Regions from separate parts of the Homo sapiens genome. Here all the other regions are linked to region 3. Evidence: fine-mapped expression QTL. A gene starts in region 3. Each other region holds a variant in brackets. All regions are shown on one strand. Distances are from middle to middle. Region 1 holds the start of LINC02558 (long intergenic non-protein coding RNA 2558). Region 2 has its middle 28 kb from the start of YWHAH. Region 3 holds the start of YWHAH (tyrosine 3-monooxygenase/tryptophan 5-monooxygenase activation protein eta).

Region 1 (10,088 bases), 22 kb after region 3:
TCGGTGATGTAACGTGCATAGCTAGTAAGAGGCAAGGTTGAGATTGAAATGGGCTGTCTTACTTTAAGGTTCTTTCCACTACGCCATGGATATTTTGATCCCCAACTAGAGAAAAGGAGTCCTAGAAATGTTATAACAAGCCTGGCAAGGTGGTTTACACCTGTAATCCCAGTACTTTAGGAGGCCGAGGTGGGAGGAGGATTGCTTGAGTCCGGGAGTTTGAGACCAGCCCGAGCAACACAGTAAAACCCCATCTGTACTAAAAGTACAAAAATTTAGCCAGCTGTGTTGTTGCATGCCTGTAGTCCCACCTATTTGAGAGGCTGAGGTGGGAGGATTGCTTGGTCCTGGGAGGTTGAGGCTGCAGTGAGCCCTGATTACACCACTGCACTCCAGCCTGGGTGACAGCCTGTCTCAAGCAAACAAACAAACCTGAAGGAATCTATTGTCAAATTCATTTCCCAAAGTTCTACTCCCATGCCATTCTGTACTAGGAAGGGGAGGGGAAATAACATTTGCTGTCTTTTGTGAGCTAGTCAGTCACCCTGCTAAGTGAAGCTTTATGTACATTTTTATTTTTTTATTATTATTTTTGAGACAAGAGTTTCACTCTGTTGCCCAGGCTAGAGTGCAGTGGCACACTCTCAGCTCACTGCAATGTCCACCTCCCAGGTTCAAGCGATTCTCCTGCCTCAGCCTCCTGAGTAGCTGAGACTACAGGTGCATGGCACCACACCTGGCTAATTTTTGTATTTTTAGTAGAGACAGGGTTTCACCATGTTGGCCAGGCTGCTCTCCAACTCCTCACCTCAAGTGATCCTCCTGCCTCAGCCTCCCAAAGTGCTGGGATTACAGGCATAAGCCATTGCGCCCAGCCTACATTTTTTTTTTTTTTTTGAGACGGAGTCTCTCTCTGTTGCCCAGGCTGGAGGGCAGTGGCACAATCTTGGCTCAGTGCAAACTCTGCCTCCTGGGTTCGAGCGACTCTCCTGCCTCAGCCTCCCAAGTAGCTGGGATTACAGGCATGCGCCACCACGCCCAGCTAATTTTGTATTTTTAGTAGAGACAGGTTTCTCCATGTTGGTCAGGCTGGTCTCGAACTCCTGACCTCAGGTGATCCGCCCACCTCGGCCTCCCAAAGTACTGGAATTACAGGCGTAAGCCACTGCACCCGGCCAACGCCCAGCCTACATTTTAAAGTTCAAGCTAATAATCTTGTGAATTAGGTCATAGCTCCAATTTAGCAGCTCAGAGAGGAAAAGTGACTTTCTATGGTCACATAGCTGAGGAGTGGCAGAGCATGTCTTTGTGCAGGGCTTCAAGATCCTTTTCATGATGCGATGTTGTCTTCAAGACAGGGGCTGAAAGCCTGCCACTCCAGGTCTTCCTTGATAAGACCTCTTTCTTCCTTGCCAGGTAGCCTTTGCTCAATCACCTTCTTTACATTCGCCTTTTAAGCCAGATTGGTCTTTTTTACTGCCCCACCCACATCTCCAGGCAATCTGGACCTTAATGTGCTTCTTACTCCTAAAGCTTGGAGCTCCTTCACTTCAAAAAGTGAGGTACTACAGTTACAGTAGGCACTGCCGTTACAGTATAACTCAAGAGGTGGATCAAAGCACCAACTGGAATCTCTCCAGCTGCACCCAGTTTGTTCAGCCTGCTCTTACTTTTGCTCAAGCCGTTACTCTCCTGTCTGGCTTTCTTCTCTTGCCCTATTCGAATTCTATCTATGAAATCTTACCTCCTCCCTGTCAGCTACTGCGATCCCTTCTTTGGGATCCAGTACTGTGGGTCTGTACCACACAATGGCATTTATCTGTCTTCATTCATTTGACAAACACATTGAAGAGCTGCCATTATGGGGTAGACACTGGGCAGGTGGCTGGAGAGACCTTAGTGAATTATACAGACATGGACATGGACCAGGGGGCTAACTCCAGTGTTAGAGTGGGGAGATACAAAAAAGTGGGGAAGATACATTAAAAAGATATAAAGTAACTAGGAAAATGTCACTCACGGTCCTCTCCAGGTCCAGCACACAAACTCACAGTAATGAATTCATGAATAACTCATTGATTACAGGTCAGAATTTTTAAAAAGAAATGACTGAGGCTGGGCGTGGTGGCTCACGCCTGTAATCCCACCACTTTGGGAGGCTGAGGCGGGCGGATCACAAGGTCAGGAGTTCAAGACCAGCCTTGCCAACATGGTAAAACCCCATCTCTACTAAAAATACAAAAATCAGCTGGGTGTGGTGGTGCACATGTGTAATCCCAGCTATTCGGGAGGCTGAGGCAGGAGAATCGCTTGAACTCGAGAGGTGGAGGTTGCAGTGAGCCGAGATTGCGCCACTCCAGCCTGGGCGACAGAGCAAGACTCTGTCTCGGGGAAAAAAACAAAACAAAACAAAGAGAAATGGCTGAAAGGAATCCTTTATTACCCCACCCAAACCTGACAGTCATGCAGCCTTGGGCTTGGCTCTAACCTGTCAACTGGCGGTGTGACCTTGAGCAAGTCCTGGCCTCTCAGCAGCCTCTGTAAAAATGAGGTTGTTGCATTTAGTGGTCTCTGGGGACCTTTCCATTTCTGAGATTCTGTATATTATTTTCAACTGCTCTGGGAAGGTCCCCTTCCTCTTCCTGGTTTTTTCCTGCATTTCTCCCCCTCCCCCTTTCCTTCCGCTCTTCACATTTGTCCCTTCTGTATCCGCCCTCAGCCCCCATTTCCTGGCCACCCCCCAATTCCACTGAGATGGTTACCATGGGAATCATCTCCTGGAAGTGACATCACACATTTCCTAGGCAACTGTTTCCAGGACAGTGACATCATCTGATCACCATGGTAACCCTCCAGGAGGCCACTTCTGCAGTGAAATGGGCAGAGAGAATTTTATGTTTTTTCTGGAGATTGAGGGCAATGTAGGGAAATATTAACAGCAACAAAAAAATCTCAAGAGTTAGAAGAAAAAGCTTTGAATGTTGTGCTTGTTGGGGGCAAGTGGGAAACCAGTGTGGGGCTGGGAAAGAGCAGAAGCTCGGGGCTAACCCCTTCTCCTTTCCAATAACTACATTGATCATATGTCACCAAATTGGGACATTTGAGAGTGAACAGGGCACCATTATTATTATGTGGGAAAGACAAGTGAACATGGCCTCCCCAAGCAAACCAGGGTATGTGGCCCCCTGCCCATAATCAGGGCAGGTGCCCGGCCTTCTTTCCTCAGCTATGGCTCATCCAGCATGCTTTGATTCAGCTCCTCCTGTGTATGGCTACTAGGGATACCACAGGGAGCAAAACAGCCCAGATTACTGTCCTAATGGTGCTCAGGGTCATGTGTGTGTGGTGGGGTGAGGGTGACCCCACAGTCACCCAAATGCACATTGTGGTATGGACTGGGCATGGTGCTGAAAAGCGAAGGCACTTGAGGGACATGTTTTTTTGTTTGTTTGTTTTTTGTTTTTAGATGGAGTCTCTCTCTGTTGCCCAGGCTGGAGGGGCAGTGGCACGATCTCAGCTCAGTGCAGCCTCTGCCTCCCAAGTTCCAGTGATTCTCCTGCCTCAGCCTCCCGGGTAGCTGAGACTACAGGCGCCCACTACTACGCCCGGCTAATTTTTGTATTTTTGTAGCGATGGGGTTTCACGGTGTTGGCCAGGCTGGTCTTGAACTCCTGACCTCAGGTGATCCGCCCGCCTCAGTCTCTCAAAGTGCTAGGATTACAGGCGTGAGGCACCACGCCTGGCTGATTTTTTTTAATGCAAACAGGAGTGTTTCTCTCACGGCTCAAAACACGTCCACAGGGCTTCCCAGTGCTGAGAAGATGGAGGCCTTCAAGGTCCCTGCCGCCCTGCCCATGTTACCTTCATCTTGAATTCCTCTCCAGCCTGCTTTCCGC[T/C]GGGCCGCCAGCCTCCTTTCCACTCCTGATACTTTGCGTGCTCCCTCTGCACTCCAGTGCGCGCCACTGCGCTCCAGTCTGGGCGACAGCGCGAGACTCCATCTCAGAAAAATAAAAAAGCCGGGCGCGGTGGCTCACGCCTGTAATCCCAGCACTTTGGGAGGCCAAGGCGAGCGGATCATGAGGTCAGGAGATCGCGACTACGGTGAAACCCCGTCTCTACTAAAAATACAAAAAAAAAAAAAAAAAAAAGAAAAAGAAAAACAAAAAATTAGCCAGGTGGGGTGGCGGGAGCCTGTAGTCCCAGCTACTCCGGAGGCTGCGGCAGGAGAATGGCGTGAACCCGGGAGGCGGAGCTTGCAGTGAGCCGAGATCACGCCACTGCACTCCAGCCTGGGTGACACAGCGAGACTCTGTCTCAAAAAAATAAAAATAAAAAATAAATAAAAAGAACTCACCTGGCTGTTGCGTGGGACAGATGGGAGAGTAGTTTGCTCCAGAGAGAGCTTGAGTGGCAGGGACCTATGTGGGGGCTGTGACTGAGGGACATGGTGGATACTATTTGGGAGGTAGAGTTGACAGGATTTGCCAAAGGACTGAGTCTGAGGGTGAGGGCAAGGAAGGACTCAGGCTACCCAGGTTTCTGTTGTGAGTAGTGGGGTGAAAGATGAGTAGTCATCTTTCAGATGATGCAGGGGTGCAGGGCTGGGCTTAAGGTTAGCAAGAGAGGTGCCTAGGTCACAACATATATCTATATCTATATTATATTATATATGTATATTTTGTTGTTGTTGTTTTGTTGTTGTTTGAGATGGAGTCTCACTCTGTTATCCAGGCTGGAGGGCAGTGGCGCAATCTTGGCTCACAGCAACCTCCGCCTCCAGGGTTCAAGCGATTCTCCTGCCTCAGCCTCCCGAGTAGCTGGGATTACGGGCAAGTGGCACAACGCCTGGCTAATTTTTTTGTATTTTTAGTAGAGATGGGGTTCCACCATGTTGGCCAGGCTGGTCTTGAACTCCTTACCTCATGTGATCTGGCCCACGACATAGGTTTTTAAATTTTTAAATTTTATTTATTTTTTTAAGAGACAGGGTCTCACTCTGTTACCCAGTTTGGAGTGCAGTGGCAAGATCATAACTCACTGCGTCCTGGAATGATCCTCTGACCTCAGCCTCCCTAGAGGCTAGGACTACAAGTACACACCACCACAACCAGCTAATTTTTGTTATTTTTTGTAGAGGTGGGGTCTTGCTATGTTACCCAGCCTGGTCTCAAACTTCTGGGCTCAAGCAATCCTCCCACTTAGGCCTCCCAAAATGCTAGGATTACAGGCATGAGCCACCGTGCCAGGCCTAGGGAACAACATTTAAGGAGGCACACACTCTCAGGGGTGGTCTTAAAAAGGAGTGCCTTTTTCAACGCTGCACGTCGGGAGAAGCAGGTTTTTGGGATTTTTTTTAGAGGGATCGGGTGTCGTGTTTTTCAGCAGTAGTAACGACACTCTTATGTTAACATGGGGGCTTTCACTTTTACCAACCCCCTACTAAAGGTGGAGAGAGCATTGTGTGCCAGCTGTGTTACTGTCCCCACAGGAGCTCTGGGAGGGGGCTCCGCACCCACTGGCCTGTCTTTTCTTTTTTTTTTTTTTTGAGATGGAGTTTCACTCTTGTTGCCCAGGTTGGAGTGCAATGGTGCAATCTCGGCTCACCGCAACCTCTGCTTCCTGGGTTCAAGTGATTCGCCTGCCTCAGCCTCCCGAGTAGCTGGTATTACAGGCATGCGCCACCACGCCCAGCTAATTTTTTTTTTTTTTTTTTGAGACGGAGTCTCACTCTGTTACCCAGGCTGGAGTGCAGTGGCGCGATCTCGGCTCACTGCAACCTCTGCCTCCCGGGTTCATGCCATTCTCCTGCCTCAGCCTCCCGAATAGCTGGGACTACAGGCACCCGCCACCACGCCCGGCTAATTTTTTGTATTTTTAGTAGAGATGGGGTTTCACTGTGTTAGCCAGGATGGTCTCGATCTCCTGACCTCGTGATCCTCCTGCCTCGGCCTCCCAAAGTGCTGGGATTACAGGCGTGAGCCACCGCACCCGGCTAATTTTGTATTTTTAGTAGAGACAGGGTTTCTCCATGTTGGTCAGGCTGGTCTTGAACTCTCGATCTCAGGTGATCCACCAGCCTCGGCCTTCCAAAGTGCTGGGATTACAGGTGTGAGCCACCACGCCCAGCCATGGCCCATCTTATAGATGAGGAAATCAGGCTCTGAGAGGTTCCAGATCTTCCTGAAGGTCCCATGGCTTGCAAGTGGGGGCAGCAGGCCTCAAACTCAGGCTTGCTGACTCATGAGCCTACTCTCTTCCCACCATGTGATGTTTCTCCAGCCTCCCGAGTTTCCTGGGGAGGAAAGGAAGATAATCCAAGAGCCCATAAAGCCCCAGGTGCTTTCAAGTTGGCCACCTCCTTGTTGCTCACCACCATTGAGGGTGCAGAGGAGCAAACCAAGGGTCTAGGAAGTGACAAGATCTCTCAGCTCAGCAGAGCTTCATCATGAGAGCCACTTTCTATTACAGGTGCTCTCCACCTGCCTTTAAGGTTCTGCCTGGCCGGGCGCGGTGGCTCACGCCTGTAATCCCAGCACTTTGGGAGGCCGAGGCAGGCGGATCACGAGGTCAGGAGATCGAGACCATGCTGGCTAACATGGTGAAACCCCGTCTCTACTAAAAATACAAAAAATTATCCGGGTGTCGTGGTGGGCACCTGTAGTCCCAGCTACTCGGGAGAGTGAGGCAGGAGAATGGCGTGAACCCGGGAGGCGGAGGTTGCAGTGAGCCGAGATCACACCACTGCACTCCAGCCTGGGCGACACAGTGAGACTCCTTCTCAAAAAAAAAAAAAAAGAATTAGGGCAGGCGGGCAAAAGGTGTTTGTGCATGACACATGAGCCTGTGGGGTAGAGGCGGGAGAGGCGGGGTACAGGGACATGTGGGACAGATGGTTGCTGGGGTAGAAGCCTCCTCCTCACCAGCTGGTTCCCAGGGACAGCATACTTTGTAGCTCTCATTTCCAGGCCTACACCTGAGGCAGGGAGAAGAGGGGAATGAGCAGGCACATCCACGAAGCTGAGGCCTCAGGGGGCAGGACTGGTGGAAGGGGCCCTCTGCCTCTAGCTACCTCATAGCCCACCCCAACCAATAAATAACCATGGTTTTGCTAGTGCCTCCAAGTACTGGACCTCAAAAGTCACAAACTACCCGGAGATTAAAAAGAAATGAATAGGCTGGGCACGGTGACTCACACCTGTAATCCCAGCACTTTTGGAGGCCGAGGCAGGTGGACTGCTTGAGTTCAGGAGTTTGAAAGTAGCCTGGGTAACATGGCAAAACAGTAAATACAAAAATTAGCCAGGCCTGGTAGTTCCAGCTACTCAAGAGGCTGAGGTGGGAAGATTGCTTGAGCCTGGGAGGTCGAGGCTGCAGTGTGCCAAGATCGTGTCACTGCAATTCACCCTGGGGAACAGAGTGAGACTGCCTCGAAAAAAAAAAGGAGTGAATAAACACGAAGATTAGGCCCTGTGACCCCCAACACACACGCACACACACACACATGCGCGCACACACACACACACACTCCTTTTTATTTTGAGATAGAGTCTTGCTCTGTTGCCCAGGCTGGAGTGCAGTGGTGCAATCTCGGCTCACTGCAACCTCCGCCTCCCGGGTTCAAGCTATTCTTGTGCCTCAGCCTCCTGAGTAGCTGGGATTACAGGCGCGTACCACCACACCAGGCTAATTTTTGTATTTTTAGTAGAGACAATTTCACCATGTTGGCCAGGCTGGTCTCGAACCCCTGACCTCAAGTGATCCGCCTGCCTCGGCCTCCCAAAGTGCTGGGTTTACAGGTGTGAGCCCCTGCGCCTGGCCATACTGCTTCCTTAATGTATTAGGGTTCAATCAGAGAAACTGTACCAGTAAGGGGATACAGATTAAGAGATTTGTTGCAAGGAGGTGATTTGCGTGATTGTGGGGCTGGCTAGGTAAGTGCAGTAAGTGCAGGCTGGAACTCTTGTCAAGGGCTGAAGTTGCTATCCACAGGCAGAATTTCTTCTTCAGGAAAACCTCAAGTCTGATTTTAAGGCCTTTCAACTGCGTCTATCAAGCCCACCTAAATTATCCAGGATATCTTCCTTTTATGTAAAGTCAACTGATAATGGACTTTATTCGCATCTACAAAACAACTTCACCAAAACATCCAGTTTAGTGTTGGAATAATTGGGGCCTTTAGTCTAGCCAAGTTGACACAGTAAAAAAGACATCACACTCAGCAGGGCATGGTGGCTCAGTCCTGTAATCCTAGCACGTTGGCAGGCCAGGGCGGGAGGATTGCTTGAGGCCAGGAGGTCCAGACCAGCCTGGGCAATGTAGAAAGACACCATCTCTCCAAAACATAAAAAAAGATAAATTAGCTGGGCTCGATAGCTATACCTATAGTCCCAGCCACTCAGGAGGCTAAGGTGGGAGAATCACTTGTGCCCAGGAGTTTGAGGCTGCAGTAAGCTATGATCATGCCACTGTACTCCAGCCTAGGTGACAGAGCGAGACTGTGTCTCAAAAACAAACAAACAAAAAGCAGTGGAACGTTGCTTTACATATATTAGAGCACTTACCACATGCCCTGTGGTTAAGTGATTTGCATGCAGCATCTCAGTTAATCTCAGAACATCCCGTGACGCAGGTATCCTTCTTGTCCCTGATTTTACAGTTCAGGAAACGGCCTCAGAGAGGTGAGGAGACGCCCACAGTCGCGTGGCATGGTGCACCTGTGTTCTGAACTGTCACTTGCCTCTCCCTGTGAGCCTCTCTTTACTCTGCCTTGTCTTCTTGTCCTGGGGCAAGAAGTTAGGGTTCAAGACCCTTCGGGATGTGAGGATGTTTCTGCCACTCTGGACATTAGTTTTCTCCCCTAAGTGGCTCTATCTCTCCCGGCCTGAGTTTGGAAGGGAGACACCATTCTGGTACGACTTTTCTTAGGCCTGTGCTGCCATCTATGGGGCTCGAAGGTGCTCGCCATGCTCCAGACCGGCCACCTGGCAGTCAGGTGAGCTTGCAAGTGTGAAGAGCAGCGGGATGCGGGGGAGGGAGCAAGCCCAGTAACAAATAAAGCAAATATCATCGGCCCTTGTCCTCAGCTGCTCGCTCAGGCCCCCCAGAATCCTGTAGCATTTCTGGGGATTAAGAGGGTGGTGGGGTTTTCACCTCTATCACGTCTACTGCCAGCCTGGCGCCCAAAGGTTCGGCCGTCATCCGCCCCAGCGGGTCCCTGGAACCGCCGGGATGCCCAGGCTGCCAGGGGGTCTAATGGGGAACTGGGAGTTTCTTTCAGGTCACAGGATAGGTCTGCAGTGCGACTCAGGCTCCCGCGGGGACCTGCCCACTCGAACGGGGGAGGAGGAAGAGGCTCCGGGGGAGAGCCAAGGAGGCGGGGAAGAGGAGCGGCGTCCCGGGAAAGGGGATGCTGGAGCTCCTGCCGACGCTCCACCTGTAGCCCCGCCCTTGACTCCGCCCACTTCCCCAGCCCCTCCCTTCCAGGCGCAGCCTCGAGGTGGCGCTGTGGAGCCGCGCAGGGTCTAGGGCGACTCTCTGAGGGAGCCGCGGCCGCCAGGCTCCGTGGGTTTTGGTTCAGGCGCCGGTTAGTGTCGGGGTAGGCCACGCAGTGAGTTGGCTTGAGGCAGGAGGCAGGCGGAAACCGAGGCTGAGAGGCTGGCTGTCGCTGCCACCCCTCAGCAACCCCAGTGCAGCTGGTCATCCTGTCAGCCGATCAGTCAGTCGCGTCCCCAGCCCGGCTCACACGCCTCCTCCATCAGTCCCTCAGTCAGTCCCTGCGTTTCCTGTCTTTCCCTTGCCTTTCTCCCTCTTTTTTCTTGTCTTTTCTTTCTTTCTTTTCCTTCCTTCTCTCTCTATTTCTCTCACTTTCTTTCCTTTTCTTTTTCTTTTTATGAGAGGGGTCACCTCACTATGTCACCCAGGCTGGAGTGCAGTGACGTCATCTCGGCTCACTCAGCTTCGACATCCTGGGCTCAAGCCATCCTCCCGCCTCGGCCTCCCAAAGCTCCGGGATCACAGGCAGAGCCACTGTATCCGCCCAACCATTGCGGTTCCTGCCAGGTGGTCGGCTGGCAGGTCGGCCCTTGTCA
Region 2 (10,088 bases), 27 kb before region 3:
GACTACAAGGGCATGCCACCACATCCAGCTAATTTTTGTAATTTTAGTAGAGACAGGGTTTCACCATATTGGTCAGTCTGATCTCGGACTTCTGACCTCAAATGATCCACCCACCTCGGCCTCTCAAAGTGCTGGGATTGCAGGCATGGGACACTGCACCTGACTCATTGTATAATCTTATCAACATACCAGCTGAGGGGTGGAAGGCCCCAGGAAGTAGGGTCCACGCCCATACGCTAACAAACAGCTGGACTGGGAATCAGGTTCATGGGAATCAGCCCAGTCACCACCAACTGTGCTGCCCTCTTCACCTTTTTGTGGTGCTGTATCAATGAGATGCCACCCACTGCTCCATCCTGGGTTCCTGCCTGGGGACCCCTTCGTTCCTTTCAACTGACTGCCTTACGTGTATGGTGAATCTCTGCATGGGTACAGATGCAGTGTAACATGTAGACATGGCCTCATATACAGGTTCTCTGGTAGGGAATGGGCAGTGACTCAGTGACTTTGAGGCAGGACCAGTGGCCTTTCCTCCCTGCCAGGCTTCTATCTGGAAGGCACTGTGTGTGCCCTCTCTTCTGGTCTGCAGCTGTGGCTTCAGCCTGCAAGTGCTTCAGGCAGCTCCTGGCCTTCAGACTGTGCCACACACTTGCCCTAAACCTGGCCTGAAATGCCTGGGATGTAGCATTTGCATGTAGCAAAAGCTGGTGCCGAGTACTGAGTCCTACCAGCCTTCAGATTTGACCTCCATCTGCTTCTCTGGCTGCAGCAAGATTCCTGTTTCCTCAGTGAATCAGCACATAGTCCTTCCAACAAGAAAATCTCTTTTCCCATGGGGATGAGGGGAGATGGGGAATTGCTATGCAATCTCTGGAAAAGTCTTTTCTCCCTGAGCCCCAGAATTTTCATCTGAACTCATCTGGGAGAAACATTGGGGACCATAAGATTATATATAGACTTTTTCCTTTCTCAACCAACAGGATGGATGAGTGCTGAGGGGGGAATTCCAGTCTGTTTCAGTCCCACAGTTGCCACTGGAACGCAATTTCTTGCCTCTTCTCTGTGCTCTTTTTTTTTTTTCTCTCAGAGATACAGGGTCTCCCTCTGTTGTTCAGGCTGGAGTGCAGTGGCACTATCACAGCTCACTGCCACCCTGAACTCAGTCTCAAGCAATCCTCTCAGCTCAGCCCCCCTGAGTAGCTGGGACTACAGGCGTGCACCACCACGCCCAGCTAATTAAAAAAAAAAAAAAAAAAAAAAAAAAAAGGCCTGGCGCAGTGGCTCACGCCTGTAATCCCAGCACTTTGGGAGGCCGAGGTGAGTGGATCATGAGGTCAAGAGATCGAGACCATCCTGGCCAACATGGTGAAACCCCGTCTCTACTAAAAATACAAAAATTAGCCTGGCATGGTGGCAGGCACCTGTAATCCCAGCTATTTGGGAGGCTGCGACAGGAGAATCACTTGAACCAGGGAGGCGGAGGTTGCAGTGAGCCGAGATCATGCCATTGCACTCCAGCCTGGGCGAAAAGAGCGAAACTCCGTCTAAAAAAAAAATATTATAGAGACGGGATTCTTGCTATGTTGCCCAAGTAGTCTCAAAATTCTGGCCTCAAGAGATCCTCCTGCCGATCGAGACCATCCTGGCTAACACGATGAAAAGCCGTCTCTACTAAAAATACAAAAAAAATTAGCCAGGCATGCTCGTGGGCACCTGTAGTCCCAGCTACTCTGGAGGCAGAGGCAGGAGAATGGCGTGAACCCAGGAGGCAGAGCTTGCAGTGAGTCAAGATCACACCACTGCACTCCAGCCTGGGCAACAGAGCAAGACTCCGTCTCAAAAAAAAAAAAAAAGAGATCCTCCTGCCTCAGCGTCCCAAAGCACTGGGATTACAGGCCTGAGCCACCATGCCTGGCTGTCTCTCTGCTCTATGCTTTTTTTTTTTTTTTTTTTTTTTGAGACAGGGTCTCACTCTGTCACCCAGGCTGGAGCACAGTGGCACAACCTTGGCTGACTGCAACCTGCACCTCCCGGGTTCAAGCGATTCTTGTGCCTCAGCCTCCTGAGTACCTGGAGCCACCATGCCTGGCTAATTTTTGGTTTTTTTTTTTTTGTGGAGACAGAATTTTGCCATGTTAGCCAGGCTGTTCTTGAACTCCTGGCCTCAAGTGATCCTCCCACCTCAGCCTCTCAAACTGCTGGGATTACAGGTGTGAGCCACTGTGCCCAGCCTCTAGTGAGTACTTCTAAAAAACCTACAATGCTCAGGATAGACCTTACAGCAAAGAATTATCCAGCCTCCAATGTCAATCGTGTCAGCTTCAGACACCATGAACTAGACTGTGGTCAGGTAAGAGGCTTAGACGGGGGGACTCCCTCCCTCCTGTGACTTTGGAAGAAGAGGCACCTGTCACTTGCCCCTTCCTGTGATCTGAATCCAATGGCAGCCCCATCGTCAATCTATAGGAATTACTCTTGCTGGGTTCCAAGGCCAGAGTGGCTAAGAAGCCTGCTTAGAGGCTTCCAGCAAGTTACGGGCAGCACCAGATTAGAATGCTGGCCATATTGAGTGCTCACTTGCTGGGACATGGCTTCTGTGTTTCCTTCCACTTTCCTTGTTCACGTACCTTGCCTCTCCCATCGAATGTAAGCTCTTTGGAGGCAGAGAACACATCTTGCTCATCCTTGTATCCTCCACAGCAAGCACCCATCACACATTTGGTGCTTATTTAGAATTTATTGAATTCATTCATTCAGCCAACATTTATGCAAGGTTGAACCAACGTGGGCCTTGCCCTCCTCGTGGAGGGAAGCAGACATGCAAAGCAGCCACCATAGCCCTCTAGAAGAGGTCTCAGATTGGCTATCTGTAATGCAGTACAGAAACTGGCCGGGCGCTGGCCGAGCGCAGTGGCTCACACCTGTAATCTCAGCACTTTGGGAGCCCGAGGCGGGCGGATCACGAGGTCAGGAGATAAGATCTTCCTGGCTAACACTGTAAAACCCCGTCTCTACTAAAACTACAAATAAATTAGGCATGGTGGTGGGTGCCTGTAGTCCCAGCTTCTCAGGAGGCTGAGGCAGGAGAATGGCATGAACCCGGGAGGCGGAGCTTGCAGTGGGCCGAGATTGTGCCACTGCACTCCAGCCTGGGTGACGGAGCAATACTCCATCTCAAAAAAAAAAAAAAAAAAAAAGAAAAAGAAAAAGAAAGAAAGAAATTGGCCAGGTGCAGTGGCTCACGCCTGTAATCCCAGCACTTTTGGAGGCTGAGGCAGGTGGATCACTTGAGGTCAGGAGTTCGAGACCACCCTGGCCAACATGGTGAAACCCCATCTCTATCTACTAAAAATACAAAAAAAAAAAAAAAATTAGCCAAGCATAGTGGTGGGTGCCTGTAATCCCAGCTACTCGGGAGGCTGAGGCAGGAGAATCACTTGAACTCGGGAGGGGGAGTTTGCAGTGAGCCAAGATCGTACCTCCGCACTCCAGCCTGGGTGACAGAGCGAGACTTGGTCTCAAGAAAAAAAGAAATAGAGGAGGGGGCTTCAGTCTGTGTAGGGGAGCTGGGGAAGACTGGAGAAAGGGGCATTTGGGCTGGGACTTGACAGCTACATAAGAGTTCTAGCAGGTGAGGAGGATGGGGTGGGGAAGGGGATGCTGGAGGGCTGGGGGGTTTTGGCAACAGAACAGTCAGGAGAAGACGACTAAAAACTGAAAGGAAGAACTGCAGAGAGAGTTCCCCGACCTGCCTCACCCAGCCTGCCCTTTCAACAACTAGAGGTGAGTGCTGGCAAGTCCCTGGGTGCACACTGGAGCCAAAAAATGGCCCATTGTCTGGAAGCCCTGAGCCAGCCTGTCCCCTGGTGTCATGCCACACAAGGCCTTGCTCACCTGTCAGCCTTTGCTCTTCCTGGCCCCAGATGTAGGTAGAACAATGGCCTCTGAACACACCCAAGCTCCACGGTGGTAGCCGGTGTCTGATAAGACAAGTAGGGAAATGATCTCTTTCATGTTCCCTTTCTCCTCAGAATCAGAACGCTGCGCCCAGGTTCAACCTGCTGTTTCTTCACCAGGTGACCCTGCATAGGCTTTTGAAACCACCCTGACCCTCATCCGTCTAGCGACAAGATGGGAATCATCAAGACTTCGTTACGTAACTCAAGAAGTCGGTGTGAGAACCTGGGAGATAAGGGTTGTTGAGCTGGGCGCAATGGCTCATGCCTGTAATTCCAGCACTTTAGGAGGCCAAAGCAGGCAGATCACTTGAGGCCAGGAATTCGAGACTAGCCTGGCCATCATGGCAAAACCCCGTCTCTACTCAAAATACAAAAATTAGCCAGGTGTGGTGGTGCACGCCTGTAATCCCGGCTCCTCAGGAGGCTGAGGCTGAGAATCACTTGAACCCGGGAGGCGGAGGTTGCAGTGAGCCAAGATCGCACCACTGCACTCCAGCCTGGGTGACAGAGGGAGACTCTGTCTCAAAAAAAAAAAAAAGGGGGGGGTGGTGGGGCAGCATTTTGAGAACTGAGTCTGAGGAAAAGCCACTGTTACTCTTGTCTGACAATAGTGCCAACTACCTGTGATCCTGAATAAGTCCATTCACCTCACTCGACCTCAAGTTTGAGGGTACAGTGATGACGGCGTTTCTCCAGCTTTCTTTGAGGGATCATGGTGAGGACCCGAGGCAGTCAGCTTTGCAAAGGTGTCTGAGCGGTGCAGGGTGCTCCCCCATTTTAAGGCAGTGCTGTAAATGCTCCCGTAACGGAGGCCAAACATTCTGGTTTTCTATTTTATTTTATTTTCAGACAGGGTCTTGCTCTATCACCCAGGCTGGAGTGCAGTGGCGTGATCACAGCGCACTACAACCTCTGCCTCCCAGGCTCAGTTGATCCTCTCACCACAGCTTCCCGAGTAGCTGGGACTACAGGCACATGCCACCACACCCCACTAATTTTTTGTAGAGACAGGGTCTCACTATGTTGTCCAGGCTGTCTCAAACTCTTGGGCTTAAGTGATCCACCCACCTTGGGCCTGCCAAAGTGCTGGAATTACAGGCATGAGCCACCATGCTCTGCCTAAACATTTTGCTTTGAATGAGCC[T/C]AGCAGGTGTACAAGGAACATGATATACCACTAGCTAGTCTGAAGCTTGGGAAAAGAAAGAAAGCAGAAAAAAGATAACAGCAAGAGCTTATTTTGTATATTGAACCCCAAACAAGTGTGTGTCCACCAACCTGCTAGGGCCTGGGGACAGCCCTGATGGAGGTGAGTGGGGACCCCCACTTCTCAGAGGAGAAACTGAGTCTCAGGGAAGTTCAGGGACTTGCCTGGGGTTACTGAGCACACAGAGCAGAGGAGAGATCGCACCTGTCTGCATTCTCCCACCTGCTCCTAATCCCCTCCAGCCAGGCTGGGCTTTTCCTCACAATGAGATGGGGTGTGGAAGACAGAAACCCAGTGAGAGTGGCCTCTGTGGAGAGGCCGCCGTGCAGGGAAGGAGGCAGGGTGGGGCCTGGGGCCAAGCTCCCTGCACAGCCATGACAGCCATGTCCCTGGTCTCGACTCCCCAGGGTCTCCTGCTCCTGGTCACTGCACTGTTGGTGGTTGGCGCTGGGAGAACAGGAGCACTCCCTGGGTAGTCTGACACACAGGATGTGTCTCGCCTCAAAGCAGAAATGAAACCGGCACAGTTCTCCTTGTGAGACACCCCCTCGCCACTTTCGTCTCTCTCCTGCAGGAACCAGGAGAGTGGCTGCCACCACTGGAAGCCAGATTGGAGGACAACAGAGAAACTGGCCAGCTCTGGGGTCTGACCCATGCAGGGAGCTGGGTGTCCACCCCCCACTGCACACATCTTGGGATTGCTTTGTGCATACCCCCTTGGGCTGCAGGTCACAGTGATCACAAGATACTGTTCCTATTAGGTTTGATGATGTAGACTCTAAGGGAGCTGCCCCTTTATACAAGTCCCTGTGTCCCAGTGGAATCGCAGCCAGCCCATCGCCGCGGGAGGGAGATTTGTTTGTGGTTTATTCGCTCATTTGTTGTTTACAGGTTTAGTCACCGTGCTTTCCACACATACGTATTAACAGTCACCCATGTGCCAGGCATCGTGTAGATGCAGGAGGAAGGATATTAAACAAAAAATTACACAAATAACGATTTTTAGGGTTGTGAAGTAATAAGTATAGTTGCGAAAAGTGCCCAAAAGACAAAGGAGAGGCCACTGTGAAAGGTGTAAGGGGAGCCAGGCGCGGCAGCTCACGCCTGTAATCCCAGCACTTTGGGAGGCTGAGGTGGGCGGATCATGAGGTTAGGAGATCAAGACCATCCTGGCCAACATAGTGAAACCCCGTCTCTACTAAAAATAGAAAAATTAGCTAGGCGTGGTGGCATGTGCCTGTAATCCCAGCTACTCAGGAGGCTGAGGCAGGAGAATCACTTGAACTCAGGAGGCAGAGGTTGCAGTGAACCGAGATTGCACCACCGCACTCCAGCCTGGCAAGACAGAGAGCGAGACTGCATCTCAAAAAAATAGAATAAAATAAAAAGCCGGCGTGGTGGCAGGTGCCTATACTATAATCCCAGCTACTGGAGAGGCTGAGGCAGAGAATCACTTGATCCCGGTAGTCGGAGGCTGCAGTGAGCTGAGATCACACCACTGCACTCCAGCCTAGACGACAGAGTGAGACTCTGTCTCAAAAAAAAAAAAAAAAAAAGGTGTGAGGGGGAGCCTGACCTATTCTGGGGCCTAGGGAAGGCTTCTGAATGTTTCCATGGAGACCTGATGGAAGGCCAAGGGAGAGGAAGGGGCAGGTGCAGCAGGAGAAGGAAGCAGAACCAATTGCGCAGGACCGTGTGTGCTGCGGAAGGGTGTCTTGTCTATGTCTTGAAAAGAAGGAACGTCTAGAAGGGTGGGTGACCTTGGGCAAGCCTTCCTCTTCTGTTAGCCTCAGTTTCCTCATCTTTTCAACAGGGACATGTTTGCCCTCCTTGCAAGGTTGTTGAAGAGCTCTTCAGTTAAGCACCTAGCACAGCACCTGCCACCTTGGAGGTGCCCAATAAGTGGAGCCATTGGCCTAATGGTTGTGACAGAGGTGGGGCAGGAATCCAGGCTGCGTGCCCAGCTCGCCTTCCAGCAGCTGCCCCTGCAGTCCCTGTCTTCTTCCAGGGCTGCTTCTAGGAGACACTGAGCCAGGAGCTGTCACTGGGCTGAACACATTGGCCCGAGTTCCAGCTCACTCTCTGCTATAGTGTTCCCCTGCTGTCATATCACTGCCCTTTGCCAGCCAGGTTAACGCAGCCTGGGAAAAGGCTGGGGTGAGTCTACAGCTACGGTCAGCCTTAGAAGCTGTTGTCCCCCCTCCCTCCTCCCACCTTCCACAGTGCCCCAGGCTCCAGCTAGATGACCTAGTCAGTCTTTGCAGATCCCTAATTCCTGTGATTAGCTGGGTAACCACGTACTCTGCAAGTGAGATGCAGGGTGGCACAGAGCTGGCAGCCCCAGGCTTGACCAGCAGTAGGACTACATCATTCTGAGAGTGCAGCCAGGTTGGACTCCCTCTCTCCTGATTCAGGGAAGGAGTCTTCCTAAAGCAGGAAGGAGCTGATCATTGATTGCATGCATGCCTGGAGCCATGCAGGATGCTTTGCTTGCTACTTGGCTTAGTTGTTTTTTGTTTTTTTTTTTTTTTTTTTTGAGACAGAGTCTCACTCTGTCACCCAGGCTGAAGTGCAGTGGTGTGATCTCGGTTCCCTGCAACATCCGCCTCCCGGGTTCAAGTAATCCTCCCGCCTCAGCCTCCCAAGTAGCTGGGACTACAGGCACACGCCACCATGCCCAGCTAATTTTTGTATTTTTAATAGAGATGGGGTTTCACCATGTTGGCCAGGCTAGTCTTGAGCTCCTGACCTCAGGTGATCTGCCTGCCTTGGCCCCCCAAAGTGCTGGGATTACAGGTGTGAGCCACCGTGTCCACCCATACCTGGCTTAGTTCTAACAACAGACCCCTGCTGTGGGTCCTGTTGGCTGCATTTTACAGATAAGTACCTGAGGCTTGAGGGTCACCCATCTGGCAAGTGACAAAAAGGCTGGATTCTATTCCAGGTCACCATGACCTTACCCAGCCCCTAACTCTGAGTGGCCGACCTTTGGGCTATGTTTTGTTGTATTTGGGATTTCATTCAGTTTCATTGTAGGAGTCCTGGAAACGAGATGGGGGAGCCTGAGCTTTGATCTCTTCCTGTGGTAGGTGGCTGCAGAAACTGCTGCCGCTCTTTCTCAGGAGTGTCCCAGGATGATCAAGCTGGAACCACCTCAGTGATGAATATGGCCATCCCCTTGTCCACATAGGGGAAACTGAGGCCCAGAGAAGGGAAGCAACTTGCCTGAGGTTACAAGGTTGGTCAGTGGAGCTGGGGCTCTCCTGGTGCCCTCCTCCATTGGCTTTCTATCTCACCCTCCCTTGCTGGCCTCTGTGCAGTCTCCACACATTGGAAGACCCCAATCTGTGTCTCCTGGACCTCTTTTCTTCATTGCATTCCCCCAGTGACCCAATCCTGAGATCCTAATTACCATCTACATGCCCACAAGTCTCAAGATCTCTAGCCCATCCCACCTCTGAATTCCAACCTATCAGTCCAGTTGCCTTCTTGGCCTCTCATTAGAGATTTAAGAGAACAGTGAACTTGATGTGTCTAAAACACAACTCTTGATTTAGCTCTGCACCCAACCCCCAGCTCTCACCCAAACCTGTTCCACCCACAGTCTTCCCGGATTTAGTAACTGTACCATCATCTACCCAGTTATTCAGGCAGAAAGCCTTGGAATTATCCTATATTTCCCCTTCCCTCATCCCCCACATCTAACCCATTAGCAAAAATATATTGTAATCTGACCCCCCTCCCCATCTCCACTTCCATCTGATGCGACACAACGTTAACTGTCCTCTTGCACCCTCCTTCGCCTTCAGGAATATATTCTCACAGCAACAGCATGCCCTCTTTAAAATACAGAACAGGCCGGGTGTGGTGGCTCACGCCTGTAATCCCAACACTTTGGGAGGCCAAGGCAGGTAGATCACCTGAGGTCAGGAGTTCAAGTCCAGCCTGGCCAACATGGCGAAACCCCATCTCTACCTAAAATACAAAAATTAGCCAGGCATGGTGTCACGTGCCTATAGTCCCAGCTACTCAGGAGGCTGAGGCAAGAGAATCACTGGAACCCGGGAAGTGGAGGTTGCAGTGAGCTGAGATCACATCACTATACTCCAGCCTGGGGGACAGAGTGAGACTGTCTCAAACAAACAAACAAACATAGAACAGGTTGTATCATTCCCCTGCTTGAGGATCCTTCAGCAACTTCCCATCATTTCAGGATGAAACCTCAACTCCTTGCCAGGGCCCATAAGGCCCTGTGAGGCCTGCCTGGGCTTCCAGAAGTTTCCATTCTCCAGTCTCATCTCCTCCTACTCAGAATGATGCAGCTTTTCCTGTTTTTTGTTCCGTGAACACCCCAAGGTTGCCCTTGCTTCAGGGCCTTTGCATGTCTCCCCTCTTCTTGGAACCCTCTTCCCAAGATTGTGGCTTGGTTGGTTCCTTATTGTGGGTGTCACTCGTTGCCTTCTCAGGCCTTCCCTGACCATCCTGTCTAGAAAGCAGCACCTCTGTGTCCTCTCGTCTCTTCCCCATAGCCCTTAACATCATCTAAAATTTTCTGCATTATCTGCCTGCTTCTGCATTGTCTTTTCTGCTCAGTGGAATGTAAGCACTGGGACTGTTTTTGGTCCCTGCTGTAGCCTCAGTGTGCCTAGCACGTAGCAGGCACTCCATGCATGCATGCTTATTGACAGAACAAACCACATGGATTAAGGGCCTAAGTTACAAACCAAGTGTCTTCGAAGTTGTTGTCCCTCAAACTCTTTTTTTTTTTTTTTTTTTTTTTGAGACGGAGTCTTGCTCTGTTGCCCAGGCTGGAGTGCAGTGGCACGATCTCAGCTCACTGCAACATCCACCTCCAAGGTTCAAGCATTTCTTCTGCCTCAGCCTCCCAAGTAGCTGGGACCACAGGCGCCCGCCACCACGCCTGG
Region 3 (10,088 bases):
ATACAAAATTAGCGGAGCATGGTGGTGCATGCCTGTAATCTCAGCTACTCTGGAGGCTGAGGCAGGAGAATTGCTTGAACCTGGGAGGCGGAGGTTGTGGGGAACCGAGATCGCGCCATTGCACTCCAGCCCGGGCAACAAGAGCAAAACTCCGTCTTAAAAAAAAACAAAAAACAAAAAAAAAAACAAGAGCCGCTGTCGATGTTATTGCTGGTGGTTTTATTATCATTGGCTGGGTCGGCAAGGTCACCTTGGCTGCAGGTGGCCTACAGTGGGAGAAAAAGTTAAAATCCTATCTGGGTGACATTATTAATAATTTGTGGACAGGCGGCTGCTCCAGCTCAAGATGGTAACCATGCCAACATTGCAAATGCCATCTCTCCAGAACAACATCACGTCTCCTTTGTAATATGTCCCTTGGTGTCCAGACTTCTCAGCAGCTCAGAGTAAGTGTCTCAGAGTATCCATGAGTGGAAAAACAAAAAACAAAAAAACAAAAAAACCAGGATGTGCCTTTTCTGGGTCATCTATTCACTGGGCTCTGGTGGAGGGTTCTGGCAATGCTTTAGAAATGCAGTCCCACGTGAGGAGCAGTCGTGACCACTAGCTCAGGGTGGGATGCAAGTGAGGAATTTTTTTTTTTTTTTTGAGCCTTGTTGTCCAGGTTGCACTGCAATGGTGTGATCTCGGTTCACTACAACCTCTGCCTCCGGGATTCAAGCGATTCTCCTGCCTCAGCCTCCTGAGTAGCTGGGATTACAGGTGCCTGCCACCACGCCCAGCTAATTTTTTGTATTTTTAGTACAGATGGGGTTTCACCATGTTGGTCAGGCTGGTTTCAAACTCCTGTCCTCAGGTGATCCACCCACCTTGGCCTCCCTAAGTGCTGGGATTACAGGCATGAGCCAACATGCCTGACCTTTTTTTTTTTTTTGAGATGGAGACTCACTCTGACGCCCAGGCTGGATGGAGTGCAATGGTGCGATCTCAGCTCACTGCAACCTCTGCCTCCCGGGTTTAAGCAATTCTCCTGTCTCAGCCTCCTGAGTAGCTGGGATTACAGGCGCATACCAACACACCCCGCTAATTTTTGTATTTTTAGTAGAGACAGGGTTTTGCCAAGTTGGCCAAGGTGGTCTCGAACTCCTGACCTCAGGTGATCCACTCGCCTTGGCCTCCCAAAGGGTTGGGATTACAGGCATGAGCCACCACGGCTGGCCAGTTTTTCTTTTTTAAAAATATTTTTTGTAGTCTCAACTACTCGGGAGGCCAAGGCAGGAGAATTGCTTGATGAACCTGGGAGGCAGAGGTTGCAGTGAACTGAGATCATGCCACTGCACTCCAGCCTCAGTGACAGAGACAGACTTCATTAAAAAAAAAAAGAAAAAAAAAATATAAAATGTGTGTGTGTGTGTGTGTGTGTGTGTGTGTGTGTGTGTGTATTTTGTTTTCTGTAGAACTGGGGTTTTGCCATGTTGCCCAGGCTGGTTTTGAACTCTTGGCCTCATGTGATCCTTCCACCTCGGCCTCCCAAAGCTCTGGGATTACAGGCATGAGCCACTGTGCCAGGCTATTGGTCCCTTTTTACAAGTGACTTGCCGGAGGGTACTCAGCTGGTGCACTGGCAGGGTAGGATTCGAACCCAAGACAAGAACCACGTTCTTTCTCAAATCACACCACACACGTGTGTTCAGGAACCCGGGGGGGGGGGCGGTTTGTTCTGTTCCCCGAGTGAGACCCTGTACCAGGTGAAGACCCAGACTTGGCTCCTCTACTGGGGACCTGCTCTGAGCCCTGAGGCAACAAAGTGTGTTTGACATTAACCATTGACCTCCCTCACCTCACTCAGGTGCTGTCTTTGACGTTGTTCAAAGGCCCTGTTTATCGATAGGACGTAGAGCCTTGGGAGTAGGTGACCTGTCGCAGGTGGTGACCCTGATTTTTATTGATGAGGCTCTTGGGCGTTAGCAACTCTCTCCCAAGGGCAAAGAAGATGTGTGCTGGTAAGAGTGTGTAGGCCACATGGTGGGAGGCTTATGTATGCTTTGTATAATCTGAGTGACCCCAACAGGGAGTCACACTTTGAGCTCTTCTCAGCTGACACCACGGGGCAGTGTGAGGCCCTCAGACTTGGGTGTCTGATGGATCTGAGTTTGAATCCTTGCTTTGCCCATTCCCAGCTGTGTGACTTTGTTTAAACCATGGGACAGCTCTGTGTCAGTTTGCTTATCTGTAAAACGGGAAGGAGGCCGGGCTCAGTGGCTCACGCCTGTAGTGCCATCACTTGGGAGGCCGAGGTGGGTGGATAGCTTGAGTACAGGAGTTCAAGACCAGCCTGGGCAACATGGCAAAACCCTAGCTCTATTAAACAAACAAATTTTAAAAACTGGCTGGGCGCAGTGGCTCATGCCTGTAATCCCAGCACACTGGGAGGCCGAGGCAGGAGGTACATTTGAGGCCAGGAGTTCAAGACCAGCCTGGCCAACCTGGTGAAATCTCTATTAAAAATACACACAAAAAAATTAGCTGGGCTTGGTGGTGCATGCCTGCAGTCCTAGCTACTCGGGAGGCTGAGGCAGGAGAATAGCTTGAACCTGGGAGGCGGAGATTGCAGTGAGCCAAGATTGTGCCACTGCACTCCAGTCTGGGCAACAGAGCGAGACTCCATCTCTTAGAGAAAAAAACAAACCAAAAAAAAGACTAAAAAATCCATTTAACAGATGAGGCACAAGAGTTTAAATAATTTTCTCTGAAAAAATTAGCTGGGTGCGGTGACGTGCGCCTTGTAGCCCCAGCTACTTGGGAGGCTGAGGCAGGAGGATCGCTTGAACCTGGGAGGCGGAGGTTGCAGTGAGCTAAGAGAGCACTATTGCACTCCAGCCTGGGTGAATGGGTGAGACTCTATCTCAAAACAAAACAAAAGCCAACAAACAAAAAAACAGGAAAGGAAATCGGACCAGCCTTACAGGGGTATCTTGAGGGAAAAAAAAATGCACGTTTCTGCAAAGCACCTTGCCTGGTACTAGGAACATGGTAGATGGTTCCTTAGAGTGCATGAGGATGGGGTCACCAAGGATAGGGCAGTGTGTGAAGAGGGCTCGGGACAAAGCCCTGAGGAACCCTAGTATTTTGGGGTAGGCTAGAAGACAAGCCCATACAGCAAATAGAAGAGCAATGGCCGGAGCAGCAGAAGGGAAGCTGGGAGAGTCGGTCAAGGAAGGGTGAGCAGTCGTGCCCAGTCCAGCCAAGAGGGCCAGGGAGGTGGGCACTATGAAACCTCCTTGGCTTTGACAACAAGGAGGGCTCTGATGGCCACGGTGGAGGAGTAGGGACAGGGTGAGAGCACACTGAGCTGATGGGTGGGTAGGAGGTGAGGAAGAGGAGATGAGGAAGTTTGGTGAGAAGAAAAGCTTCATGGGAGAACCAGAGTGTCCTTTACACATGTCAGAAATCAATTATTTAGAATGCTCCAGCTCTACCTAATTTTCACTGTTTTGAAATCAATCTTAGTCCAACCTCATCAGAAAAGCTGGAAGGGCTCTAAGCCCTCTAAGAGCTAGAAGGAACCGAGGAGGTCCCCCCATCCAGGGCTGGCCCTCCTCCCATCTCTCACTGGGACCCCATCCTTATGGGGGGTGGAGTGGATGATTCATTACTATCTAGCATGCTCTTTAAATATATTCACTAGGGGAAAGATTAGCCTGGTTTGTTAACCTCGATTCCAACAGCAAAAGTGACTCTTCAAAGCATGGTGAAGCCTGGGGTAGTGGCCTCCTCCTAGACCCACATTCAAATCCTGTTTCATGGGCCCCCAGAAGTGTGATCGTTTCAGCATCATAGCAGGAAGAGGAAGGCCTGGGAGGCAGGAAACCTGGTATGGAGACCCCAGCTCTGCTCACTCGCTGTGCAAACTAGGGCCAGCCCCTCCTTTCCCTCAGACCTCAGTTTCCCGTTATTCAGGATAAGGGGTTAGACAGGGGTGATTCTAAGGGTCCTGCCAGCTCTGACATTTCAGCATGTGGATATCTATTCTAAAGTCCTTGAAACAGTTAAGTCCAATTCTCCAGATGGAAAACAGGTCCAGAAAAGGCCTGGTCTCCAGTTCCCTCCCTTCTCCCTTCGAACATGTCTTACTCTCTAGAGCAAGATTCCAGGCCTGAAATATGGCTTCCCAATTACCTAAGGATGAAGCCTCAAATCTTTGGCCTGGCATTTAAAAGACTCCGTAATCTTGTTTTACCCAACCTCACTTCCCATTCTTAGGCCTCTCTTCTCACCATCTCCCAGGTCACTGCCAAGCCTTTGCCAATGCTGTACCCCAGGCCTTAATCTTTTTCCTGACTCTCCTTCAAGATCCAGCTTATCCCTGTGGGCTGAGCATGCAGTAGATGCTCAATAAAATTCTCAGCGAGCCCAAGGCCCCCTCTCCTGCACTGCCCTTGGCGTGTTGAAATCAAGTGGGGGCCTTGTTTTAATCATCATTTTCCTAGCTTGTCGGGCAGCCCAGTCCAGGGCCTGGCACAAGGGACCCTCAGCATCCAATACCAGCCAGGATTGGGAGGGGCTCAGTGACCAGCCAGTTGGGCCACCCCAGCTCTTTGCCACAAGAGAAAGTTCAGCCTGGGTTTGGACTCAGATCCTGGCCCCACCACTTACAGGCTGCGTAACCCTGAGCAAGTCACTAACCTCGCTTTTCCTCAGGTTCCACGTTTTAAATATGGGGAGACCAGCTGTGCCCACTGTGGGCTGGGTAGTGAGGATTAAAGAGGAGGATGCTTGTACGGGACTAGCACTGGGCTGGCTCCTAATGTGTCCTGAATATTACTTGTCCCGCCCTGGCCACCCAGTCCCCTCCTCTGGTGGAAGGCACAGCCTGCCCAAGGCTACGTCTCAGGTTGGGTTCGATTGTGTGTGTCTGTGTAGCGGGGCTGTCCCCGAGGGTCGGACTCGATCCTGCCCGGACCAGTACAAGGTGTGGCCCAGCAGAACGCATGGACAGGCAGGGCTCGGGGCGGGCGGGACGGCTGGGGCGGGGCTGGGCGGACCCGCCCCTCGGGGCACGCGGTCTCCCGGCTTCTCCGCCAGTATGTTTGCTTGCTTTTGGGGCCCTTCTCAAGCCAGATCTCTAACGTGGATGGAGTGGCGCGTTTCAGGGTGGGGCTATGACAATGCACTGCCTGTGCAGCCGCCATCACCGCGCCCCCTCCACCGGCTCCGCAGTCTCCTGCCCGGCTTTCCCTTCTCCACCTCCATCTCTGCGGCGGTAAAATGCAGCACTCGCAGAGCGCCTGCGCGGCTTTCAGGCCGGGCGGCGGCGGCGGCGGTGGCTATTTATAGTAGGTGACGTCACCTTGAAATAGACCGTTAGGGCCGGCCCGCCCTTCCCCCCTCCCACTCCCGCCGCTCCCCGCCGCCCGGCCTGGCCACTCTCACTGCGCAGGCGTCGTCCCGTCCTCCCATCCCCCAGCGCGGCCGCGTCTCCTCCCTCGGCGTTGTCCGCGGCGCGAGCCACAGCGCGCGGGGCGAGCCAGCGAGAGGGCGCGAGCGGCGGCGCTGCCTGCAGCCTGCAGCCTGCAGCCTCCGGCCGGCCGGCGAGCCAGTGCGCGTGCGCGGCGGCGGCCTCCGCAGCGACCGGGGAGCGGACTGACCGGCGGGAGGGCTAGCGAGCCAGCGGTGTGAGGCGCGAGGCGAGGCCGAGCCGCGAGCGACATGGGGGACCGGGAGCAGCTGCTGCAGCGGGCGCGGCTGGCCGAGCAGGCGGAGCGCTACGACGACATGGCCTCCGCTATGAAGGCGGTGAGCGCGCCGGGAGCCCGGGCGGCTGGCCGGGGGGGGCCTGGCGTTGGGGAGGGACGGGGATGGCCGCGGGCGCGTTCCCCTCCCGGCCATGGGCGACCCGGCGACCCGGCTGGGCGTGGCCGCCCGCCCGCCCTTAGCCCGCGCTTCCCGCTCCCGCTGGGCGCCCCGCCACTTCCTGAGGCTGGGCCCAGGGTGGGGGATCCGGGAGGGTGCAGTTCGGGATCGCGAAGGCAGCCCCGGAAGGGGGGCGGGCCGGTCGGGGTCGCCACATCTTAGTTCGGAACCCGGCCGGGGGCAGAGGGTGCCCTAGGGGACGCGAAGGAGCCGCATTTCTCCTAGAGCGTTTCACCGGACCCGGGGGCTCCCCCTCTCGTCTTCCTCCGTTCCCCAACTTGGAATAAAGAATCACCTAGTAAGTGGCGCCCTGTCTCAGCTGGTTTTCTCTGCCACGACCTGAAGTCTGCAATTCCGATCTGTTTTGCTCTGCTCGTTCGAATTGTTCTGGTTCCATCTTCCCACGCCTGGGGGTCTGGCTTTGTGTGCGAAGACCCCTTTCCTGCAGTCTAGGCGTGGACGGGGGCGGGAGAGTGGGCGGAGGGTGTGGGGCCCCACTCCACAGCCCCAGGTTTGCTGCTGCGCTGTCTGCTTGGAGATTAAAATGAAACGTGACTTCTAGGTGAGACGAATCTGTGTGTCTTTGCATTCCTGAGACCCTCATAAATCGATTCTGCAGCTTCTCCGGTGGATGAGTCGTGCCCAGCCACACCCTAGCAAAATACCGTGGGTCACACACCACCTGCATTTCTGAGTTCCGGTTACCATCTCACTCTCTCTCCACGTTATTTTACGTTTTCTGTAAATGAATATTTCCTCTCCCTGCGTCAAGGTCACACAGTGGTAGAACAACTGCGACCACCAACCTATGTTCAGTGTACAACCTCCTGAGACCTGGGAGGATCCCCTTGAACTCCGCCTTAGACCTATACATTCAGAAATTCGGGCGGTGAGACTCAGACATCTGCATTGTAACCAGCTCTCACAGGCGATTTTTAGCTGGCTTAAGTCTGAGAATTACTGCCCATGATTATAGTAAATGTATCCTTTGCTGGCCTTTTGGAGGGAGTTCCGAAAAAAAACTGCCAATACAAAGGCTCCCTAAAATCTTAAGTCATTTGGAAAGCTCATTTGAAGGCTTTTGATGTTAATATCAGATGAAATATGTAGTTGGGGCCAATATTTAGGATTGTTCAGGTAAGAAAGGTGCTTGAAGAGTTGCCTTTCCTCTGGTGTCCTTGTTACACACATAACTGGGTGTGTTTGGAAACCAGCAACACCGTTGCCCGTATGTTGATTTGTTGGTGATCTTGACTTGAGCACTATTAGCATGCTGTTGTGGTGAGGCAGGTTTTCTTCCAGACCGGGGGACGGTCTAGGTCTGGAGGCTGAACTTTATGTAATTCAGGGGGTCCTTTAAAAGAAAATCTAAAATATAGTTTTGCATATTTTACAAAAATGGGACTGACGAATGCATTTCCTTGGAAGGGACCCTGAACCTTAATTTTCTGTGGGATAAAGCTGCCTCTGTCCACAGCAGGTCACACTTAAGCCCCTCCTCCCCAGTAACTGAGTGGTGCTGGGATTATGCAGGCTGAGGCCTCTCCACACATTTTCATGAAGTGGTTGCTCACCCTCTAAGTGAGACGTAAAGACTGCAGTGTTCGGAGCCCTTTGGGAAATAAATGTGGTGAAAAGAAAGGAGGGACGAGGTTTAAAGGAAGGGGAAATGGAGGTTAAGGAAAAATGGCTAGAAGGTGTGTTCTGGAACAATCAGAAACCTGAGGCAACTTGAAATGGGGGAAAAAGGCAAGAATGGAGAGATGTTACCAGAACGAAATCTAGTTTGAGCAGAGAAAAAGACTGGCTTTCTAGTAGGCTTGTAAAATGCTTTCCTGCAGCAAGCTACTTGTGTCCATAGATCTTCTCTGGAGGGTTAAGGTAGCCTTTTGTAAACCAAAGGAATCTATAATATCTATATTTGAAATAATTAATGAGTTGGAAAAGCCACCCAGCGTAGAAGAGTCAATCCAAGCTTTAATTCTGCCATCTCAGAATGGTGATAAACCATTTCTCCCCCATCATCTAAATGGAATATATTGTGCTTATAGGTATTTTCTTTAAAAGAAAAAAAAGAATATATTGGAAGGGACTGGCAGGGGTCACTTTCCCTGCTAACTTGGTGTTTGTAGATTAAATTCTTAATGTTACTGGGATGACTCAGTCTCTATGTTATTAATCTCATCAGCCTTAACTAAGGCTTTTGGAAAGGGTGTAAGTTTCAGTAACCCTCTGGGTTTACCTGGGCTTTCTTCAGGGCTGGGGAAGGGCAGGTAAGTAGCCTGCTGTAGGGAGGATGGAGCAGGACACATGTGTTAAGGATATATTCTGATGCCACCAGTCTGTAACCTTGAAACTTACATCTTGGCTTTAGGTCCTCTGAAGTATAAAACTAGTGATGTTGCTGTTATTAACAAGTCAGTTTTGCCTTCAGTCTTCTAACTTGTTTTCTGTTTCCTTCATAATTAAAATGCTCACTTGATAATACTGCCTTCCTGTAATGATTGATGTTCCTCATTCTACCAGCGTCACCTGGAGGACAGTGTTGGTAAGCTTGAAGAAAAATCGTGCATACTGGAAACAATGGTCTTGCCTCAAACCTGTTGAGAACTTCTCTTCCCTGCTTCTCTCCATAATTTGAAGAAGCAAGAAATGTTTCTGAAGTGAAGCATAAAGGAGTATCTTCAAGCTCTATCTCATACCTACCAGCTTGCATAGAGTATAATAGTGGGAAGAAATATTGTGAAAGATTCTAGAACCTAAGTCCTTTCTAGGCTAGGCAATTCTAGGCTACACAATTCGTAGTCTCTGTAAATACCATTTGATAACTGAAATAAACCTATAAAGTGGGATTAAATGTTAGTCCAGAAGACTAAGTGATTTAAGGAAAGAGGGAAAATAACCAGATAGATTTCTGGTGGATATTCATAGACAGACATAATTTCATCATGTATTATGGCCCTAAGTCATCTATTTTATATTAAAACATAGATGGTAACTGTAAAGTTATCAAATGTAAAAATTACTGGGCTAGCATTGTGTTTTAACACTGATACACCAGTTGATTACAGTGTTGACAGAAAACGGGCAGAAACACGTTTAAAGTACCTGCAGAATATATATATAGAAATCTTTTTTTTTTAATCAGTGTTGACCAGGTTGGCCTCGAACGTGTAGCCTCACCTCCCCGAGTGCCAGGGCAACCGGCCTGAGCCACAGCGGCTCCCTAGAAATCTTAAGTGCAGGAAACAAAACTACAGTTTAAGGAAACAGGAGTCGGAGAGGAGGGGCATTTGGCCCAACCACTGGCAAAAGGCTGTTGTTGCAACAACTGTGAGATTCTGGGAAGTGGGGAAATGAGCAGGTGCTGTGTAAAAGTGCACAGCTGACTGCCCCAGGTGAGACAGATCAGTGTCACAGAGAGTAGGAGGATTTTGAGGTGTGATTAGTATTTTTTTTTTTTTTCTTAAAGAGATGGTCTCGTTCTGGAACCCAGGCTGGAGTGCAGTCGTGGCACGATCATAATTCACTGTAGCCTTGAGCTCCTGGGCTCAAGTGAACCTCCTGAGCAGCTGGGACTACAGATGCATGCCACCGTGCCCAGCTAATTATTAAATTGTATAGACAGGATCTCTATATGGTACCCAAGTTGGTCTCAAACTCCTGGCCTCAAGCAGTCCTCCTGCCTCAGCCTATTAAAGTGCTGGGATTACAGGAGTGAGCTACCACACCCAACCAGTAGGAAATCTTAAAGCCACATTGATACTACAGTTTGAAATATGTAAAAACTAGGGAGCTATGTTTCCCACTAACTGGGCATTTAAAATGTAATCGTCTTTGAGGAAGGAAGAAGGCTCTGGATTATTCTTGTAATAGTTTGAATTTAAAAGGTCCTTTCAGGTGGGCAAACAGCTTACGTGGCTTTCTTGCACTGAAATAGAAACTGTAGTCCCCATGTGGGTTTGGGTCCCTGAATTATCCCCAGAAGAACTTCCACAGTCCGGAACTGACTCCCTTAAAGAAACCAAAAATGTATTTTCTTTGGTGGGGATTTTCTTTAGTTGGTCTTTGTCTGGGATTTTATATCAGTGACAGACTGTAGCGTCACACTTTTCCAGAAATACGGTTTCGGAGAGGGTACCCCTAACGTTTTATGTGTGTGTGTGTTACATTTA

What was found.
Region 1: its variant is fine-mapped to the expression of YWHAH in whole blood (TOPMed, PIP above 0.99). The same link has a PIP of 0.9 or more in blood mononuclear cells.
Region 2: its variant is fine-mapped to the expression of YWHAH in whole blood (INTERVAL, PIP 0.92).

Annotation. Positions count from the first base shown.
Region 1 is chr22:31,961,330-31,971,417 of GRCh38, forward strand. LINC02558 (long intergenic non-protein coding RNA 2558) reads left to right here and starts at 9,494. Exons shown (of 5, transcript NR_149128.1): 1 at 9,494-9,583. RefSeq lists enhancers at 8,624-8,673, 8,744-8,853. The variant T/C (reference allele first, on the strand shown) is at 3,897.
Region 2 is chr22:31,911,753-31,921,840 of GRCh38, forward strand. No RefSeq gene overlaps it. Among named protein-coding and RNA genes, the nearest start is that of YWHAH, 28 kb to the right of the region's middle. RefSeq lists enhancers at 417-916, 5,218-5,718. The variant T/C (reference allele first, on the strand shown) is at 5,104.
Region 3 is chr22:31,939,025-31,949,112 of GRCh38, forward strand. It overlaps YWHAH (tyrosine 3-monooxygenase/tryptophan 5-monooxygenase activation protein eta), which reads left to right and starts at 5,511. Exons shown (of 2, transcript NM_003405.4): 1 at 5,511-5,796. The coding sequence starts at 5,710. YWHAH-AS1 (YWHAH antisense RNA 1) reads right to left here and starts at 6,342. Exons shown (of 3, transcript NR_171018.1): 1 at 6,209-6,342. LOC124900477 (a long non-coding RNA gene) reads left to right here and starts at 5,810. Exons shown (of 3, transcript XR_007068065.1): 1 at 5,810-6,211; 2 at 6,476-6,654; 3 at 8,440-10,088. RefSeq lists enhancers at 3,973-4,830, 4,831-5,688, 6,432-6,481 and silencers at 4,952-5,101, 5,382-5,471, 5,482-5,701, 5,772-6,111.